Linked DNA regions of Homo sapiens. The protein of the gene in region 4 interacts with the protein of the main gene of each other region in a pairwise test. Each region holds a gene or a part of one and is shown on either strand. Other genes may lie near its edges.

Region 1 (3,500 bases), on a different chromosome or scaffold from region 4:
TTTGAGTTCTAGCTCTTCCACTCCAGGAATGGGGACTCTTAATCACTTCATTATATAATCAATCCATTGTATCTTGGATCATTGTTTGGTTTCTTTTTATTGGTTTTGTTTTATTGCTAGCATTATGTTCTTCCCCCACCCCTAATTTTGTGTGTTTATGTTTTCAGCTATACTTTGGGTCAAATAGACTTGCAAAAACCTAGCCACTTTTTGCAGTGTCATACACTTGGGGAAGTAAGGTCTGTGTTCTCTGTGAGAGGTTTTTTTTTTTTTTTTTGACAGGGTCTTGTTCCATTCCCCCAGCTGGAGTGCAGTGGAGTGATCTTGGCTCACTGCAACCTCTGCCTCATGGGCTCAAGCGATCCTCCCATGTCAGCCTCCCGAGTAGTTGAGACCACAGGCATGCACCATCACACCCAGCTATTCTTTTGTATTTTTAGTATAGATGGGGTCTTGCCATGTTGCCCAGGCTGGTCTTGAACTCTTGAGCTCAAGTGATCTGCCCCCCTTGGCCTCCCAAAGTGCTAGGATTACTGGTGTGAGCCACTGCCCGGTCAAGGTCTGCATTCTAAAAGAATTTACAAATGACCTTTTTGGAAAACAGGATTGAGAGGATATTTGACTTTGAGAACGGTTGATTTTGAGGCATACCTTTTTCTTTTATTTAGAGAATAAACTCTCAGCTCTAAAATTACACACTCTAGAATATATTCATCTATGGTTTTTTAATGTCATAAAGCCTTTTAAAAATTGGGTATTGTAAAATCAAACACAGCAATAAGGATGGAAATTGCTTGCTAGATACTTTTTAATAAAGTGTAAATATTTCAACTGTAAACTTACCTTTTGGGAAAAGCTCTGTTCCTAGCTTGACATCCATGTCAAAATTTATTGAAGTGAAACCCAACATGGGGTTTGAGGGAATATCCAGAAGACTGATATGTTCAAGATTTGGAAGAGCTAAAGGACTGGCCTCTCTGTAATTAGATTAAGCTATGTTTTGGGTCCCTATTGCAGTGTGTTTTCACCTTGATATAATTAATCAGTATTTATTGAAAATCTAATATGCATTCAGCACTACTTGGAATGATAGGAGATAGAGGAAAAGTAATACACATGGTGTCCCCTACCATGACACTCATGATAGATGACATTCATATAAAAGACACACTGCTAGGGGTTGTGGGATACATCAGATCATCTGATCAAGGGAGCATACTGGAGTTCAAACGAGTGACAGAAATGTTATCTAAAGGGAATCTTGAATCTATCCATATATATCATTCATTCACAGACTTGGTACTTTTTTTATTAGTAACAAATTACTTACTGTATACTATAATTTACCATGGCACACCAGTTTGTTATGAAGTGACAGTTGAAAACTGCTGTGTTGGAGCTTATGACAGTAGGAGGGACAGGATTTACTGCTATAAAATAACTGAATAATTCAGGATAATGTAAAATATACTGAAATGGGATGTGCATTATTACTGCTCCTTGAGGGCTTTTATAGTCAGGGAAAGCTTTGTGGAGAAAATGGCTACTGAAAAAACAGATAGCATATCAGCCCAGGTTCTTAATTGCAAGGAAGAGAAATACAATCTGATTGATTTTAAGCAGAAAAGAATTTATTAAAAAGAACTGGGATATAATGCATACCCTTTGGCCCCACAGTTTCATTCCTAGATATACAGCCAACATACACGCATACATGTGTTTACTAATATGTGCAAGAATGTTTGCAGCAGTGTTTGTAATAGAATCACACTGGAAACTAAATGCCCATTAAAGGTAGCATAGATAAGTAGTTTTTTTGTTTGTTTGTTTTTGTTTTTTTTTGAGACAGAGTTTCATTCTTGTTGCCCAGGCTGGTGGAGTGCATTGGCATGATCTTGGCTCACTGCAACCTCTGCCTCCCGGGTTCAAACGATTCTCCTGTATCAGCCTCCTGAGTAGCTGAGATTACAGGCATGTGCCACCATGCCCAGCTAATTTTTATATTTTCAGTAGAGGTGGGATTTGGCCATGGTGGCCAGGCTGGTCTCGAACTCCTGACCTCAAGTGATCCACCCTCCTTGGCCTCCCAAAGTGCTGGGATTACAGGCGTGAACCACCCCACCTGGCCTGTATTCACCTGATCATAGAAGGTTATACAGCAGTGAGCACAGACTGCAATTATGCATAACATGGGTGAATCTCACAAAACCTAAAATTGAGGAAAGAAAGCAGACACAAAAGAGAGCATAGTGAATGATTTTATTTATATCAAGTTGAAAAATGGATAAAATTAATCTATAGTGTCAGAAATCAGGATAATGGTTACCCTTGGGAAGGGAATAGTAACCCTTGGGAAGGGAAAGGGAAATAAGGAGGGCTTTGGAAGTGTAGTTGACCCTTGAACAACACAAGTTTGAACTGTGTGTGGATCTACTTATACATGAGTTTATTTCACCTCTACCACCCTGAAGACAGCAAGACCAACCCCTCCTCTTCCTCCTCCTCGTTATGATTTTTTTTTTTTGAGACGGAGTCTCTATCTGTTGCCCAGGCTGGAGTGCAGTGGCGCGATCTCAGCTCACTGCAACCTCTACCTCACAGGTTCAAGCGATTCTCCTGCCTCAGCCTCCCAAGTAGCTAGGATTATAGGTGACCACCACCAAGCCCAGCAAATTTTTAGTGGAGATGGGGTTTCACCATGTTGGCCAGGCTGGTCTCGAACTCCTGACCTCAAGTGATCCGTCTGCCTCAGCCTCCCAAAGTGCTGGGATTATAGGTGTGAGCCACCATGCCCAGCCCTCCTTATGATTTTCTTAACATTTTCTTTTCTCTAGCTTTATTTTCAAAACACAGTATGTAACACATATATAACATACAAAATATGTGTGAATCGACTGTTTATGTTGTTGGTAATGCTTCCAGTCAACAGTAGGATATTAGTAGTTAAGTTTTGGGGGAGTCAAAAATAATATGCAGATTTTCAACTGTGCAGTGGGTCAACACCTGTTAATGTTCTGTTTCTTGACACAGGTGGTTTTGGTTTGTGAAATTATTTGAGCTGTAGACTTAATGTTACGTGCACTTTTCCCTTACATCTGTTATACTGTGCCTGTTTCTGTACATATGTTACATATCAAATGTTTATTAAAGGGGTATATTGGGTAACTCAGAATTTCTGGTGCTCCTGGCTATATATACCAAATCCCAGTTCAGGATTCAACAACCCAGATCATGCTGCTGAACTGCACTACCACTGCCAAGTGTGAAATTGAAGCTTGCTCTGCTGGCCTTGTTGCCTGGGAGCTTGATCCTGCTTCTGTTACTCCACACCTGTCTCCCTCCCTGTTCCATTCCTGGCTCCATTTGCAGCCCTCCTTTCAAAGTGTGGGGTGGATACCTTTGTTAGGCAGAGCCTAGCACAAGTGGTCCTCCTTACTGCAAGGGAGTCTGGGAAAGCAAGTATCCAGTGTTTTCAGCTTTTATAGTGGGTGGTGATTTCT
Region 2 (3,500 bases), on a different chromosome or scaffold from region 4:
TTAGAGATACATACTGAAATGTTTATGGATAAACTTATATCATATCTGAGATTTGGTTTTTACAGGGTATTTTTTTTTTTTTTTTTTTTTGAGATGGAGTTTGGCTCTTGTTGCCCAGGCTGGAGTGCAATGGCGCGATCTCAGCTCATTGCAACCTTCGCCTCCCCGATTCAAGCCAATCTCCTGCCTCCGTCTTTCAAGTAACTGGAATTACAGGCAGGCTCCACCACGCCCAGCTAATTTTGCATTTTTAGTAGAGATGGGGTTTCACCATGTTGGTCAGGCTGGTCTTGAACTCCTGACCTCAGGATCCACCTGCTTCGGCCTCCCAAAGTGCTGGGATTACAGGTGTGAGCCACCACACCAGTTGAGATTAGCGTTTGAATATTTCAAAAGAAAAAAACAGAAGTCGCTGAAACAACAGCAACGGAATGTTGATAGTTGTGGAAGGTTGGTTATGGGTTCATGAGGTTTCATTATACTGTTATACTTTTGTATGTTTGACATTTTCCATAATACTTTTTTAAAGATAAAATTTGTAAGAAAAAAAGGATGCTTCTAAAATAGAACATGTGAAATTTGGAATGCTGTGTGGTAGTTTTCAACAAAACACTGCTTTCTCATCTCAGTATTTATTTCATCACTGAGTTCCTACATTAAATTGCATTGACATCAGTATAATGCCAAAGTACCAAGTTTCATGCTAAGAATAGCTTAAGAGCTATGCCAATATCTCTTTATAAGCAGTAAGAACAGTAGAGAGAGAAACATTCACGTTTATAAATAATAATTTTCATTCAAATCAAATTGTACCGTAAGGAATATGCCATTCTTTGGTTGGCCAACGCCATACATTGTTTTCCATTTTACTTAAAAATTTCTAAGTTAAAAATTAAACATGTTTCTTGTTTTAAAAAAAGGTCAGCTCAAACTAGTAAAGCACATAGATGCGTCCCATCACCACTCCACTTCCCTCCTTTTAAAATTTGTTTATAAGCCTTGGTACTTTAAAAAGAATGTTAGACTAGAATGTATAAATGAGTAGGAATGTTTATTCTTAACTAGCCCATTTGGGTGCTTGTTTTTAAGTACCTCAAGATGGTAAAATACAAAAGTATCAGGTAATTCACCCTTGCTTAATTGTTATTTTACTAGAGTTTTAAATGCCATTTATTCTTAGAATCCATCTTTTTAGTCCAAACTTCTTAGTTGAGCATTAAATACTCCCTTACAATCTGGTCCTTTCTCTCACTTATATAAACACTGTATTCCAAATTATTTTTTAATTTCCAAAATATCTTCTACTTATTTTAGGCTTTTGTTCATATGGTTAGACTCCTCTTAAGTGTCCTGTCTGCCTATTCTTTCCTTTCCTTAAGATACAACTTTATTCATCTCCAAAATGGAGAGAGTAAAAAAAATTTTAAAATAAAAGTAAAATAAACTTTTTTTAAAGATATAGCTTCAAATCCATCTCAGCTGATAAGGCTTCTTAGACCACAAGAGCTTGCTGTGAAATCGTGAATCATTTTCAATTCCAAATGATGAGGTGGCACTTTTCTTCTAATGAACTGTTATGTTAGATCTCTTGGAACTCTAAAGTTCTGTTACTCTGACTTTCTTTAATAAGTTTGTATGTGCTAAGGCATCAACTCTGTTTCTTATTCCCCTCTTACAACATCTAACATGGTTCATCTTTTATATCATTTTAGCCAGGCAAATTACCATCCATATGTGAAGTTTAATCTTTGAAGGGCAACAATAAGCATGTTAAATAACAGTATCTTTATTAGTATTTTCTAACATTGTTTGCGGACCTTGAAGTTAACTAATACCAGTATAAATTGAGTACCTCCTAGGTGCTTGGCGTTGAAAGATACAAAGCTGAATGAGACCCTGTTCCTGCCCTCAGAGACTTCATAATAATAGTCTCAAACTTGTCATAAATCTTATTTGTACTAAATAGCCATTTTGTGAATAACTTTATTTGATAAATCTTTCAAGTGGATAAAGGAACAAGAGATGTGTTTTTAACTCAGAATTCTTATTGAAGCAAAACCTTGCTCACCATCATTAAAATAAGAGCAAAGACTTTCTAAAAAGAATTTTTCAAATCAAATTACTTAGGGAGGGAGTTCATTTTAATTTTCTAACATTTCCTCTAAACTGATTATTAAAGTCATACTATGAAATTCGTGAACACCAGCTATTTTCTAAGGAATATAGTTCTTAAAATATAGTTTTGAGCTTGGCCTTGATCTCCCATTTATTTCAGCAAGTGTCATGGTGTGTCTAAGGATGTAAAGATGAATATGATGTTGCCGTTCAATAGCTCCTGTCAGACCCTCCCTGGAGTTTCAGTTTGGCCAAACAACTCTCTCAAGCACTTCTGAAATCCTATTTCTTTTACAGAATTCACACCGTGACAACTTCACCATGTTTCTTAAATTCTAATAAATAAAATATGTCACATTCGAAATCCATACATTTTCTTGTTATATAAAAACTCTACATGTTTAGTGTTACTTAAAACTGTTTTCACATCCTTTGGTGCTATTTGCATTACTTTAGTAAAATAGATAGAAGATAGTTTGTTAACCTGATGTTAAAATTTACACTTATGTACTACATGAGTAAGGTAATTAGAAAATCTATAAAACTCTTTTAAATTCATCATATTTCTTGAAAGAATTTTTTTTTTTTTTTTGAGACGGAGTCTCGCCCTGTTGCCCAGGCTGGAGTGCAGTGGCACGATCTTGGCTCACCGCAATCTCCGTTTCCCAGGTTCAAGCTATCCTCCTTCCTCAGCCCCTCTAGTAGCTGGGATTACAGACACGCGCCACCGTGCCCGGCTAAATTTTGTATTTTTAGTAGAGACGGGGTTTCACCATGTTGGCCAGGCTAGTCTCGAACTCCTGATCTCAGGTGATCCACCCGCCTCAGCCTCCCAAAGTGCTGGGATTACAGGCATGAGCCACCGTGCCTGGCCTTTCTTGAAAGTATTTTTAAGGTAATGACAGAGCTACAAATTAATCCTAAACTCTTAACCACACCCAACTGATGTACTCCTAGTTGCTTTGCTACTATATTTAAAATGATCAAACACCTAAGTCAATTACTTTAATATTCTTTGGAGACCAGCTTACTGAAAGAACCTCAACACAGTTAATATATTTGAAGCAAAACTCCAGCACAGTGAAGTAACAGTAATAACAGCTGAAATTCCTAAATGGGCCAAAGAGGAAAGTAAAGTAATGCAGCATGCACTAAACCAAGCGATACATATTTAAATAGTTATGAATGAGTTTAGAACAGTGGTTCTCAGTCTTGGCTGCACTTAAAATGCTTGGGGAATCTTTATAAATGCCAATATATGAGCTACACCCCAGTCCAATTAAATTAGAATCTTAGGGGTTGGATCAGACCAGACATCAGTGTTTTCTAAAGCTCCCTCAAGTAATTCTAAAGAACAGCCAAAATTGGGAACCAATGGAGAAAGA
Region 3 (3,500 bases), on a different chromosome or scaffold from region 4:
AGAAGCAGCATAAAATTCTACAAGTTTCTGTTTATAAAGGAATGTGCTTACTCTTCCTTAATATAAAAATCTATCTAGAGTAGATTAAATTTTAGCATATCACAGATGGAAACACACCCATGTACATTCTTTTGAAGGGGTGGGAAAACAATTGCCTTCTCCATATGGCTGTCTTCTCTACCTCCCCAGAGATGAAGGCGCGTGGATCAGTGAGTTTGGGAGGAAGAACTGAGTACCCGTAGCCAGCCCCTTCCCCTCTTCAGTGCTTTTCTGCCTGCAGAGCACATGCACCTTCTCAGGTCTTCCATATTTTAGGTTTTACAGGATAGGCCTGGGTTGTTCAGCACTGGGGGAGTTGATATGCTCAACTCTGACAGTTAAGTATTAGCAAGCCAGACGGGTGCGGTGGCTCATGCCTGTAATCCCAGCACTTTGGGAGGCCGAGGCGGACGGATCACGAGGTCAGGAGGTCGAGACCATTCTGGCTAACACGGTGAAACCTCGTCTCCACTAAAAACACAAAAAATATCAGCTGGGCGTGGTGGCGGGCACCTGTAGTCCCAGCTACTCGGGAGGCTGAGGCAGGAGAATGGCGTGAACCCGGGAGGCAGAGCTTGCAGTGAGGTGAGATCACGCCACTGCACTCCAGGCTGGGCGACAGAGCAAGACTCCATCTCAAAAAAAAAAAAAAAAGAAAAAAAAAAGTATTAGCAAGCCAACAGCTGCTGCAGATCCAAGCCACGTTCTCCAATATCACTTTTATTAGTTAACAAGAACAAACAATAAAGTGAGATTTTAATCTCTATCTTCTAGGCTCTTATGTCTTTCACCTCTTTTCATGTCATTAACAAAAACTTTGCTTGAGAAAAATGTAACACATGTTCAATATAAAATCATTAATGGAAGAATATATTCACTTACCAGATGTGCTCTGGCAAATACAATAGGGAGTCCAAAAGCTGACACGACAATGCCCGTTGTAAGAAAGATGGCAAGTTCCTTACAAGCGTTACTCATAGCATCTGTATCATCCACTAATCTTCTTGCTATGCAGTATGGAATAGGTGAAAGGATGTAAAAAAATAGAACAAAGAGGGGCCAGTATTTGCTAGAAAAAGAAAAATAAGTTAATGTAATTTTTGCTATGTCATTTTCCTACACACAAAATATGGTCTTTTTAAAAAATCAAGATTCAATCGCTTGACTTCTAATGGATGATACCCAACCTTAGCATAAAGCTGAAACAACCCTAAACTTCCCTTACAACACGAGGAACTCCCAAATTACAGAAATCAAAATACAGAAAAGAAGCTAAAAGTAAGAACACTTTCAGTCAGAATATAGAATTTATCACAATAAAAATAGATGGCTTTTACTCTACATCTAGTTAACTGTATTGTACCACAGTCATTTCCTGGTTTTGATAACTATGGTTATGTAAGATCTTATGACTCTGGCAGGCTGTGTGGAGGGTACAGGGGACCTCTGTGTATGATTTTCACAACTTCTTCAGAATCTAAAATTGTTTCAAAATAAAAAGTTAAAAAGAAATAGATGCCCTTAAAACTACCATAGAATAAAATAGGTATCATGGTGGAGATCTGATTGTACAGAGGCTAATGATAAGCAGCTACTTATGTTTCCTAAATTTTTTTTTTTTTTTTTTGAGACAGAGTCTCGCTCTGCTGCCCAGGCTGGAGTGCAGTGGCATGATCTCGGCTCACTGCAACTTCTGCCTCCTGGGTTCAAGTGACTCTCCTGCCTCAGCCCCCGTGACTAGCTGGGATTACAGGCGTGCACCACCATGCCCGGCTAATTTTTGTATTTTTAGTGGAGATGGAGTTTCACCATGTTGGCTAAGCTGGTCTTAAACTCCTGACCTCAGGTGATCCACCCACCTTGGCCTCCCAAAGTGCTAGGATTACAGGCATGAGCCACTGCGCCTGACCATTTCCTAAATATTTTAAGAAAAAAAATTAAAAATTGAATATATGCTTAAGAAAAATAATTCAAACAGTACAAAAGCACAAAAAGTAAAGACTAAAAGTTCCAAATCTCCTCTTGCCCACTTTCCTATTGAGCTTCTCAGGGACCCTTCCACATTTCCACATAAACTTTAAAATATGAATGGGTCCCTGCAGTTTTCTAACAATATGTCTTGAACATATTTACATGTTAGCACTTACAGCTCTTCCTCATTCTTTTTAAGACTGCCTAGTATTTCCATTAAAAGATTTACTATAATTTAACCATTTTTCTTTTGAAGGACATTTAGGATGTTTTCAGAATTTTTTTTGGCTCTTATAAATAACGCATAAAACAACAAAACAAAAACAAAAACCAAAAAATAAACAAGGCTGCTTGAACATCCATACTCTCCCCCACTAAATATATCTTTGTAAACATCTGCAAGTGGGTTTGTATCAGAAAGTCTAACAAGTGAAAGGGCTAACTCAAAGAATATATACTTTGAGAGCTACAAGCAAACTTATCTCCAAGAAAACTATCTATGTGTACTCCCCCCACAGCACAAAAGAGTCCCTGCTTGCCCTGTCTCTTGTCTTTGTCAATAGATTTTGTTTAGTTTTGAGTGAGGCTGGGGATATTTTTATGTGCTTATTAGCAATTTGTAGTTCTCTTTTTGTATTTATTTTTCTATTGAGTTGTCCATCTTTTTCTAATTTATCTAAATGTTAAAATGTTAACTTTGAGAAGTTCTTTCTATCCTAAGGAAAGAAATTTTTTTTTTTTTTTTGGAAACAGAGTCTTGCTCTATCACCCAGGCTGGAGTGCAGTGGCGTGATCTTGGCTCACCGCAACCTCCATCTCCTGGGTTCAGGCGATTCTCCTGCCTCAGCCTCCCGAGTACCTGGGACTACAGGCATGTGTCACCACGCCTGGCTATTTTTTTGTATTTTTAGTAGAGATGGGGTTTCACCATGTTAGCCAGGCTGGTCTTGAACTCCTGACCTCAGGCAATCCTCCCGCCTTGGTCTCCCAAAATGCTGGGATTACAGGTGTGAGCCACCGCACCCGGCCGGAAAGTAATTGTTTACATCTCTCTCTTTTTTTTTAATTGTGTTTTGACTGCTTATGGTATTTTTTTGCAAAAAGACATTTTAAATTTTCTTGTAATTAGTATTATCAATAGATGTTAAAAACTGAGCAGGAGGGCTGAGGTACTGTGTAGCTATCTTGCCACTGCAGACTCAGCAGTAGTGAAAGAGCAGGTAACAGCCAAAAATATTATTTGCATCTTGGTGTCCTAAAATCTTTAGAAACAAACTTTAAGTGGTGATTTTTACAAAGGTATGTGTTTGGTAAGTGAACATTTCTCTGCATTACTTTTACAGTAGTAAAAAAACATTTTTTTAAGCTTTAAAAGTAGAAAAATTTTACCCTTAAATATTCAGAAAGACAAACATTTTACATACTTGTATATTGGAAGGGCACATCCAAGCATCAAAAACATCAGTCCGATTGCTCCTCCAAAGGACAAA
Region 4 (3,500 bases):
TCCGCAGTTAATTGTGCCCCTGGTTTATTGAGACTAGAGAATGGCAATGACTTTTACCAAGTATACTGCTTGTAAACATTTTGTTAACAAGGCACGTCCTGCACATCCCTAGATCCCTTAAACCTTGATTTTATACAACACATGTTTTTGTGAGCTCCAGATTGGGTCAAAGTGCTGGGGCAAAGTGGCTGGGGCAAAGCTACAAATTAACAACATCTCAGCAAAGCAATTGTTTAAAGTACAGGTCTTTTTCAAAATGGAGTCTCTTATGTCTTTCCTTTCTACATAGACACAGTAACAGTCTGATCTCTCTTTCTTTTCCCTACATCTAGTCACCTTGAGCTCTTGAAGGGACTGATGATAAGCTCAGGGGCCAGGGCAGGGGCACCAAAGATTTCCCCTAGCTGGAGCCCTTGGACCCTTGGACTCCCGCTCTGACCCTTATCTCTGTCCTGCAGAAAATGGGTGAATTGCCTTTAGACATCAACATCCAGGAACCTCGCTGGGACCAAAGTACTTTCCTGGGCAGAGCCCGGCACTTTTTCACTGTTACTGATCCTCGAAATCTGCTGCTGTCCGGGGCACAGCTGGAAGCTTCTCGGAACATCGTGCAGAACTACAGGTGACCACCCCTCAATCTGACCCTGTGTGCCAGGATCTCATTTTCTGTGATTAATATAATATGTTTTGTACCTGCCTCCTCAAGCTTGACAGTGACCCTGTCCCTCAATCCCCTCACTCTCTAGCCCCGTCTGTTGGCATCACAGAGCTTTAACCCAAAGGATTTTAGGGCATTTGGGTTGAGAAGATGGCATTGATATTTATGGGAGGGGCTGCTCTATGCATCACAAACCTCTACAGGGATCTATCCCATTGCGGGGTCACCCTCTGCAAGGATAGAGGTGCTCAAAGTGGAGTCCCAGGAAGATAGGAGGGAAATCCCCTTATCTTTGGGAGGAAAAACTCTTGCAATGCTTGCAGCCATTTTTGACCCACTGGAAACCACCATCATCCCTGACCCAGCATTTTGGCAGAAACAGAAGGGTACCCCTCTTTGTGTGGCTATAAGGGAAATAGAAATAGGAGCCTCCACTTCTGGGAAACTTTGGCCCTCTCCCAAAGATAAGGAGCTTCCTTATGCTGAGACTGGGGGCTGAAGTTCCTGGTTCTCTGTCCAGAGTTACCCTGAGCTGGGCAGGTGGGGCCTGTGAGGGCAGATCTGCCCCCTGGCATAGCCTGTCTGCTCCTTGCCAACTTCTGCAGGGCCGGCGTGGTGACCCCAGGGATCACCGAGGACCAGCTGTGGAGGGCCAAGTATGTGTATGACTCCGCCTTCCATCCGGACACAGGGGAGAAGGTGGTCCTGATTGGCCGCATGTCAGCCCAGGTGCCCATGAACATGACCATCACTGGCTGCATGCTCACATTCTACAGGCAGGTCTTGTCCCACGTCCCCTTCTTCAGTGCCCTAAGCTAGAGCATAGCTTGACTAGGTGCGCTTCTTGTCTGGGCCAACTGGGTGAGTGAAAGATTGTGTCAGAATCGCTTCCATTCCTCAGAATTCAGCCTCAGGAGGTCTCTCACCCCAGAGACAGTAGGTGTGTTTGTATAAATGGGGGTGGGGGTACATAGGGGTTACCAGAACAGGTTCTAGGGCCATTAACTGGGTCCCTTCTTAGGCTTGGGGAATAACCTTTGGTTTCATTACAGGGGTCTAAAGATGAGGGCCACTGTAGACGGGGCAGAAGTGAGTGTCTTTGTTCCCTCAGGAAGACCCCAACCGTGGTGTTCTGGCAGTGGGTGAATCAGTCCTTCAATGCCATTGTTAACTACTCCAACCGCAGTGGTGACACTCCCATCACTGTGAGGTGAGAGCCAGCCCCCAGCAGCAGCTGCACTGTCCCATCTGACCCTCTCCTCCCAGCCTGCAGTGCCCTCTCCTTTCTCTCCGGTTCCCTGTGGACCATGCAGCCAGTGCTCAGCGCCCTCTCCTCAGCCTGCCCCACCCCGAATTACCCTGCCTAACTGAAGGCATGAGGTCCTCTTATGTATGCTGTGGGGGACCCACCCCTCTTCACAGGGTGCTACTGGGGCTTCTAGACAAGTTTACGCCGGAGATGGAGGGAAGGCTTCTTCTGCAAGGAGCTTCCCCTTTTATGCCTCATGTATTGAGGACTTGGCATATCCCTAAAGGAAAGGGCCACCTGCTGGACTTGTCACCTCTCCCCGTGACCTGGCTTTTCCACCCACAGGCAGCTGGGGACAGCCTATGTGAGTGCCACCACTGGAGCTGTGGCCACGGCCCTGGGACTCAAATCCCTCACCAAGGTAAAGGCCCCTCACTCCCCTGACCACCCCATTCATCCTCTATCTGCCTCCTTCTTCCTCATCACACCTCCAGTTCTGACCTATATGCCCCCTATATCTCCCCAGAGTCCCTCACCACCCCATGGCCCTTAGGGCCACTGAACAACACCCTTCCTCCCCAGCACCTGCCCCCCTTGGTCGGCAGATTTGTGCCCTTTGCAGCAGTGGCAGCTGCCAACTGCATCAACATCCCCCTGATGAGGCAGAGGTGAGTGACCCCGGCTCCTGGCATGTGCATGCCCAGAATGTAGCACACTGTCCATCCACGCAGACCACCTCAGAATGGGGACATCCCTCTCCCTCCCCAGACATGAGCTGCTGGGCCCTGGCTCAGTCTGACCCTGGGATCCTCAGGTGGGAGAACCAGCCTTTGAGCCTGGGGTGTGTGAGGGGACCCTGAGGAGCCGCTGCTCATTCGGGCATTGCAGGTGGGATCCGGGGCCTGTGATCTGACCCCAACCCCCCTCCCTTGCAGAGAGCTGCAGGTGGGCATCCCGGTGGCTGATGAGGCAGGTCAGAGGCTTGGCTACTCGGTGACTGCAGCCAAGCAGGGAATCTTCCAGGTGGTGATTTCAAGAATCTGCATGGCGATTCCTGCCATGGGTAAGGCGGGAGTGGCTGGGTGGGGCATAGGAGACTCTGAGAGAAGCAGGTGCAGTTCTCAGGGACTTTGGAGGACTCTGGGGAGAGAGGGAGGAGCTTTGAGGGGGGTCACCCTTCACAGTTCCTGACTTTAACTCCACTACTAATGTTCTCCTTCTTGGCCCTGCTCTCCCCACAGCCATCCCACCACTGATCATGGACACTCTGGAGAAGAAAGACTTCCTGAAGGTAGGCGACTGTACCTCTCTTGTCCTGGAATGGGCGATGGCTGGGAGAAGTGACCAGGCCCCAACTCTCTCTCCAGCCTCGCCTGATTCTCTAAGACTTGCCAGCCCTTCTCCTGACCCCTGCACCGCCTCCTCCACCTTCGTTCATTCAGCAAGAATGAACTGGGCTGGGGTGAAGGAACTCTGCAGGGGCAGGAGGAGAGGACAAAGGAAGGAAACCAACTTCATCAGTGTTACTCCAGTGGCTTCTGACACACAGAAGGGGACTGTCATAGTCATGCTTGATCTCATGCTCATTCTTTT
Region 5 (3,500 bases), on a different chromosome or scaffold from region 4:
TCAAGGCACATTCATATTTAATGAGAGCTGGCAAAGATAAATTCATTCATTTCATGTTGACAAACTCAGAAGTGGACTAAGAAGTCTCAAGGAATGCACAGTTACAATTATAGAGGCAGGGTGAAGATAGAATCTGGCAACTGAAGAGTTGGGTTTGATGTACTATGTAATCTCTCTGGACTCAGTTTATTCATCGACATCATGCTGAAAGTTACATCTGTCTAGTAGGTTTATCATGAGAATTTTATGGATTAATTTACATGAATGTGCTTTGTACAAATGTCATTATTCATGTTATTCTATCTTTCGTTTATTTCCCAAATATACTGAGTGCCTTCTGGGTGCCAGGCATTATTCTAAGCACGAAGAATACACCAGAGAACAAAAGAAAAGAATCCCTGTTTTATGGAGCTTACATTCCAATGGAGGGAGAGGGAAAACAGCAACATTAAATAGTAAAAAGTGCTGTGAGAAAAAATAAAACAGGAGAGAGTGTGTGCACAGGGTCATTGGAGGATGGCCTTTCTGAGAAGGTATCATTGAGCAGGCGCTGAAGAAAAGAAATGAGGATACAAGCTATACACATATCTGTGTGAAGGCATGTCAAACACAGGAAATTGCAACTCAAGGGCTCAAGGGGCCCAAAGGAGTGTGTTTGTCATGCTCAACAGACAGCAAACAGTCCAATGTGGAAATTACAGCAAACAACGTGAGAATAGAAGGGGATGAAGTAGTAGGAGGGATGGGGAGGGCCAGATCACAGCAGGTCTTATTGGCCATGTTAGAACCTTGGCATTTGCTTAGAGTTTATGGCATTTGCATGGAGCAGCAGAAGGTTCTGAGAGGAAGAATGATGGGATCTAATTTGTACAAGATCATATGATCTGATGCTGTGTTGGGAATAAACTGATGAAGTGAAAGGGACAAGGGTGGAATCAAAACAGTTAAGAGGTCTGGTACAGGGATCGGATTGGAAGACGATTTTGTTTTGGTGAAGATGACAGTAGAGCTGGTGGAGTTTGAAAGAAATGAAATGCAAGAAAATGATTTGCTGGATTAACATCTTTGAAAAGGTGAGAGGTGATGTGCTCTAGTGAACAAGTAGATGGGATGGCAGAGATAGAAGCATAGTTAGTTCATTTATAGTTAATGGAGGGAAAGCAGTCAGGATGGCAAATGGGGTATGGCAGAAAGTGGGGTAGCCCCTCTCTTTTCTTGGTTGCCCCTAAGGCAACAATAATCCAAGGTATCATCATAGAGCAAGTCCCACTCCTTCCCTTCTGGTCAAAATCTAGTTTCAGGGCATGAGAACTCTGCTCGTATGATCCTGAAGAGTACATTGAAAAATGGCCACAAAGTTCCCCCACCTCTGTTTGCTTGCCTTTTGCAGTATGACTTGCTGCTCCTTGCTTCAAGAGGTAATGTCTGTTTCTCCATCCTTTGAGTCTTCAGCACACCACTGTCTTTCTTTCTTTCTCCTTTCTTTTTCTTTTCTTTCTTTTTTCTTTCTTTCTTTTTTTTCTTTCTTTCTCTTTCTTTCTTTCTTTTTTTCCTCTCTCTCTCTCTGTCTCTGTCTCTCTCTCTTTCTTTTTTTTTTAGATGGAGTTTCACTCTTGTCACCCAGGCTGGAGTACAATGGCATGATCTCAGCTTACTGCAACCTCCGCCTCCTGGGTTCAAGCGATTCTCCTGCCTCAGCCCCCTGAGTAGCTGGGATTACAGGCACCTGCCATCACGCCCAGCTAATTTTTGTATTTTTAGTAAAGACAGGGTTTCACTATGTTGGCCAGGCTAGTCTCAAACTTCTGACCTCAGGTGATCTACCCACCTTGACCTCCCAAAGTGCCGGGATTACAGACATGAGCCACAGCACCCAGTCCACCACTGCCCTTCTTTCTATGAAACCCTCTAGGTATTCAAAGAAGGCTGTAAATATGGCAGGAGCTCAAACTACATTGCTGACTAAAAGTAACAAACTCTTGGAATAATGTTGACCAAATCATTTGACCTTTGTTCTTCTCTTCAATTCCCATAATAATAATGAAGAAATTTATGAGAAGGAAAAACATGATTATTAATAATGATCATATTTCACTAGGGAGTAGTAGCATCCATCTATCATGAGGCAGATAATAAAGAATTATGAACCAGCTTCTCTGATACCCTCAAATCTTTCTCTTCTTTGGACAATGCCCAATTTTTCCTCCTGAGATTGCTCTAGAATGCTTTCCTTTGCACTGAGATAATGAAAAATTTGATTAGAATATAAACAATTTCCAAAAAGGGGTAATAAATGAGGTTATTTTTAGATGCTGACACCCTGACGTGACTTGTTCTGTCAATTTAGCTGGTCACTTAGGGCCTTGAATAGGATGCACGAAAGATCACCAGGGGAAGAGAGGAAAACACACAGGGCAACTAGAAGGGCAGGCCTGGAGAAGAAGGGCAGAGAAGGTACTAGGTGCTAGTGAGTGAGGCCCTAGGACAGGTGATGGTGTTGGGGAGAGATGGGACGGTAGCTCAGAAGAGAAATGGGAGGACAGGTGCCCTCCTGGCGATTGTGCATAGTAGCACATGTGTCCATGAGAGGTGCTAGAAGGAGCACTGGAAGACTGAAATCAGAAAACAAGGGTTCTCTAGCAAGTCCTTTCCCTTCCCCGAGCTCATTTTCTCATCTCTAAACTGGAAATAGCACTCTTTCCCCTGACTACCTCAGGGATAGACATGAGGACCAAAACAAGCAATGTATTGAAAATTACATTGTAAACTGTGATGCACAGGCAAATATAGGGTTTTATTTATTTATTTATTTTAAAGGCTGGGCATGGTGACTCATGCCTATAATCCTAGCATTATGGGAGGCTGAAGCAGGAGGATTACTTGAGCCCAGGAGTTAGAGACCAGCCTGGGCAATATGGCGAGACATCGTCTGTATTAATTTTTTTAATACAATTATTATTATTTTATTGTATTAATTATTTATTGTATTAATTATTTATTGTATTGTATTATTTTTTAAATCTCTTTAAAAAATAAAAATTATTACATGCTTTAACAAAGGAAATAAGGAAACTTTTTTTCATGCATGCAGAAAGTAAATGGAAAGACTCTTTCCCTTCATATTGTACATCATATTAAAAAATCAACTTTGGAAGGGGGAACACATCTAACCCAGCATTATTGTTCAATATTGGAATTGCATGCAAATCAAATGAAATTGTATCTGTGAAGGGCGGCTGTTTTTCTTTCTTTTTTTTTTGATGGAGTCTCGCCCTGTTGCCCACGCTGGAGTGCAGTGGCACAATCTTGGCTCACTGCAACCTCCACCTCCCAGGTTCAAGCAATCCTCCTGCCTCAGTCCCCCTAGTAGCTGGGATTATAGGCACGCACCACTATGCCCGACTAATTTTTGTATTTTTAGCAGAGATGGGGTTTCGCCGTGTTGGCCAGGCTGGTCTTGAACTCCTGACCTCAGGTGATCCACCCGCCTCGGCCTCCCA
Region 6 (3,500 bases), on a different chromosome or scaffold from region 4:
TAGTGGCCTTGCCAGTTGCCATCTGGCTGCACAAAAGTCTGTCAGCTGCATCATCATGTATGCATTTATCTGTCTTAGAACTTTTAACCAATAAGTGATTCACCAGTTCTCTAGCAGGAAATTGTAGGCCTTGGTATCTTCCTCCTTCTTTATTCCAAAGTAAAGCTGTGGCCTTTGGATTTCTAAATGGCAAGAAATGGCAATTTTGCATTATACTCTCCGTTATACTTCACACCTGTATATAAATGCTTCCAGGTATAACTTGTTCAGAATGTTCTGTGTCTTGTCAGGATTAAATTTTATTGCAAAGAATCTAAAATCTTTGTGTGTATTTTGTTTAATTTCAGGGTAGTATCCACATGCCATTCTTTGGTGGTTGGTATTTTTGGCCTGTACATTTTCTTATTCGATGAGGCTACTAAAGCTGATCCACTTTGGTAAGCTGTTTCTTTTTCTAAGATTGCCAATTTCATTTATGTTTTGATATTAATTATTTATAAGAACATCACTTACTTTAAAACAGAAAACATATTGATCGTATATGCCTTATTAAAATGCTTGTGCTCAGACATTCTAGCAAAGTGCATTTAAATGATTTATTTTAGATTTGAACACAAATGAAGGCCATTTTGCCTTAGTGTAGCAATTGTTATCCAAAACAAGGAGAATATGATGATAATTTAAACATTTTTACTGTGTTAATGAGTAAAGCCAAGTTATTGTAGTCACAGTTCTGAAGAAAAATAAATCATTATTGAGATAGGGTAGTCAACTTGGATAATATCTACTTAAGACTTTTTTGTCTCCAATTTATGTTTGACTCATTTGATATCAAAGAGATGAAATGAGAGTTACAGATGGCCATGTGATAGGAATTTAGTACCACAGGATTTGAAGCACTAATGCACTAATAATAACTGTGTTCAGTAGTAATAGGATAACATGTAAGATGGTCCTTTTAGAAAAATTTAAATGTCATTCCAATGGCAGAAATTTTGCAAACTGTTTCCTGGTGTTATATGAGAAGGCTTAGTTCAGCTTAGTTTGAGAGAGCAGGCATGTTTGAAGAAGCACTGCACTGAGATGAGGTAGTTGTGGGCTCCGGGGGATGTAGGGCAATTTAGCCTTTTCTTTTGACCACCACCATTTGACTGCAAGGACGTTTTTCTATTCATAAATATAAAATTATTCCCAGAAGAATAATATCAGTATTGATACATTTTCATTGGGATGCTGTTTTTCAAAGAGAATTAATTTATTGAATTTAATTCCATGACTAGGTTTTTAAATAGTCTACCTACAAAATTTCTAGCTTTTTAAAAATTTTCGTTTTCATTTTACTAACGTGACCATCAGCAAAATAAAACCAGTTCTTTTGGGAAGTAAATTTCATAACAAAGATTTGATTCATTGTTCAAGTTTTGCCTTATCGAACTTTAACATAATTTTTGATTTGAATTTTATGTCATGATTTACTCCAGGTCAAATTTTCCTGGTTATATTTACAGATCAAAATTTGTAAAGAAGGCACAACTTGTGCTAAATCTTTCTATTAAATATTTGTAGTCCAGCTATTTTAGTTAGTGTTACTTTCACTAGTAGTTCACTTTGTAACTATCTTACTATGTAAGATAACAGCAGTAGTTACCTTACTGCTAACACCAGTACCACATGATGCGTCACAGTTTGGCTAAACTGTCATTGTGTGTTTTGCAATTTTATTTGAAGATGACAGCTTACCATTTGAGAATCTATAGAAAGCAATTTTATTATATTTAAATCTCTATAGAAAAAAGAAGTAGCGGTCATCTACAATCTATATACTTTAAAAAGGAACCTTTTTTTTTTTTCAGGGGTGGTCCATCACTTGCAAACGTGAATATTGCTATTGCCTCAGGCTACCTCATTTCTGGTATGTGAGATGTTGTTTTATTGTCTAATTCCTTGTAAACTACTCACGGAATTATACAAAGAATATATAGTCTATGCTTTTGGTTTATTTGAGAGATAGCATTTAGGAAGCATACAGAGGAAAAAAATACCTCCCATGATGGTAGAACATGAAATGTCTTTTCATGAAATGGTTTTCTGTTTCTCACTGAAGATCAGAGTTACAGAGTGATGCCTCAAACAACTGAGGCCTGGACATTTTTTATCAGCAAGGATATGGTCCCTCTTTGTCCTAATGAGGCTCTTAAGTGTAATGACTGTGAAACTAACGAAATTTAACTTTTAGGGTCCCTCACTTGCAAGAGTTCTTGAAATGTGTTCCAGTAGTCATGGTTTTGTGTTGTTTTTGTAAAATTTGCAGAAGTAAGCTTTTTTCTTTGTTTTTCTTTTTAATAGTTATAGTTTTTGGTGGCGTCACTATTTTGAATTAGTATTTAATTGCATTCTTTTTTATTTTTAAAATATTTTTTGTACGATTTGTTTTATAAATGAGTTGGTCATTTTGTACCTTCCCTATGACCATCTTATCTCTGTTTGAATTATTGTAGTGACAAAAATCAGTCACTTAAGCTTATTTAAAATTATTTCTATTCAATAATATTTTTTGTTTATTTTAACTCTGGAAACAAGTTATTCATTTATGCTTTCAACAAATATTATATTACATATGATTAGGTTGGTACAAAAGTAATTGCAGTTTTTGTGATTAAAAATAATGGCAAAAATCACAGTTACTTTTGCACCAACCTACATGCCAGGCCTTGTGCTAGATTCTGAGGGTTTAAAGATGCTCACAACCTGGCCCTTGTCTTAGAGGAGCCACAGGAGTGTGGATGAGACAGGCATATAGGAGCAGAGATTTTATGGTAAAGTAGATAATCAGACTAACTGAGGGATGAACAAAGTGCTGTGGGCTCAGAGTGGACAGTGATGAGTTGGCAGGAGAAAGAGTTCAATACATTTGAAAAACAGTGCAACTTTCTTCTTATGTAATACCTTACTCACTTTTCTTTCTTACAGATTTGTCCATTATAATTTTGTATTGGAAAGTGATTGGTGACAAATTTTTTATAATGCATCATTGTGCGTCCCTGTATGCATACTACCTTGTACTGGTGAGTTCCAGGATTTTCTGTAGCCTAACTAGCAGACAAGATTGGGAATAGTGATGTAAAGGTGAACATAAATCTAAACATACAATTCTTAGTTTTTAAAGACCATCTCCAGATGCATTCAGGGATTGCTTTTGTGGTATGCTATCTTCTGTATTAACTAAAATAATACCTTTATGTGTGTCTGTGTTGGTGTTGGTGTGTCTGTTTGTATTCATAGATTTTGAGACAGACAAATGACCCTAATTCTTTGAATTTCCATTTAAAACCTTCAGGATTGTTGTAGCTATAGATATTTGTCTGTATTTCTAGATGCATTTATGATTTAACAGCAAAGAGTATGAGCCAGCGAAAATATTTCTTTTCTGTTTAATTCCATGTGCAATTACATATACATAATTACATTTAAGTAGGTTGGAGCAGTGGAGAAATCTTGCT

The links.
Region 1: the proteins of SFXN3 (region 4) and LAMP2 interact in binary tests that used the Homo sapiens proteins (3 or more experiments, as listed by UniProt).
Region 2: the proteins of SFXN3 (region 4) and SH3GLB1 interact in binary tests that used the Homo sapiens proteins (3 or more experiments, as listed by UniProt).
Region 3: the proteins of SFXN3 (region 4) and LEPROTL1 interact in binary tests that used the Homo sapiens proteins (3 or more experiments, as listed by UniProt).
Region 5: the proteins of SFXN3 (region 4) and SCN3B interact in binary tests that used the Homo sapiens proteins (3 or more experiments, as listed by UniProt).
Region 6: the proteins of SFXN3 (region 4) and TLCD4 interact in binary tests that used the Homo sapiens proteins (3 or more experiments, as listed by UniProt).

What each region holds. Positions count from the first base shown.
Region 1 is NC_000023.11:120,459,297-120,462,796, reverse strand, and holds part of LAMP2 (lysosome-associated membrane glycoprotein 2 isoform A precursor), read left to right. Parts: intron 1-3,500. UniProt on the Homo sapiens protein: Lysosomal membrane glycoprotein which plays an important role in lysosome biogenesis, lysosomal pH regulation and autophagy.
Region 2 is NC_000001.11:86,707,576-86,711,075, forward strand, and holds part of SH3GLB1 (endophilin-B1), read left to right. Parts: intron 1-3,500. UniProt on the Homo sapiens protein: May be required for normal outer mitochondrial membrane dynamics. Required for coatomer-mediated retrograde transport in certain cells. May recruit other proteins to membranes with high curvature. May promote membrane fusion.
Region 3 is NC_000008.11:30,101,908-30,105,407, reverse strand, and holds part of LEPROTL1 (leptin receptor overlapping transcript-like 1), read right to left. Parts: coding exon 3,435-3,500; intron 1,109-3,434; coding exon 922-1,108; intron 1-921. UniProt on the Homo sapiens protein: Negatively regulates growth hormone (GH) receptor cell surface expression in liver. May play a role in liver resistance to GH during periods of reduced nutrient availability.
Region 4 is NC_000010.11:101,034,234-101,037,733, forward strand, and holds part of SFXN3 (sideroflexin-3), read left to right. Parts: intron 1-458; coding exon of another isoform or gene 459-461; coding exon 462-622; intron 623-1,263; coding exon 1,264-1,434; intron 1,435-1,710; coding exon of another isoform or gene 1,711-1,769; coding exon 1,770-1,868; intron 1,869-2,252; coding exon 2,253-2,328; intron 2,329-2,433; exon of another isoform or gene 2,434-2,489; coding exon 2,490-2,575; intron 2,576-2,842; coding exon 2,843-2,970; intron 2,971-3,148; coding exon 3,149-3,198; coding exon of another isoform or gene 3,199-3,500. UniProt on the Homo sapiens protein: Mitochondrial serine transporter that mediates transport of serine into mitochondria, an important step of the one-carbon metabolism pathway.
Region 5 is NC_000011.10:123,648,125-123,651,624, forward strand, and holds part of SCN3B (sodium channel regulatory subunit beta-3 precursor), read right to left. Parts: intron 1-3,500. UniProt on the Homo sapiens protein: Regulatory subunit of multiple voltage-gated sodium (Nav) channels directly mediating the depolarization of excitable membranes.
Region 6 is NC_000001.11:95,148,355-95,151,854, forward strand, and holds part of TLCD4 (TLC domain-containing protein 4), read left to right. Parts: intron 1-347; coding exon 348-437; intron 438-1,853; coding exon 1,854-1,912; intron 1,913-2,970; coding exon 2,971-3,065; intron 3,066-3,500. Other genes in the region: TLCD4-RWDD3 (TMEM56-RWDD3 protein), read left to right, coding at 348-437, 1,854-1,912, 2,971-3,065.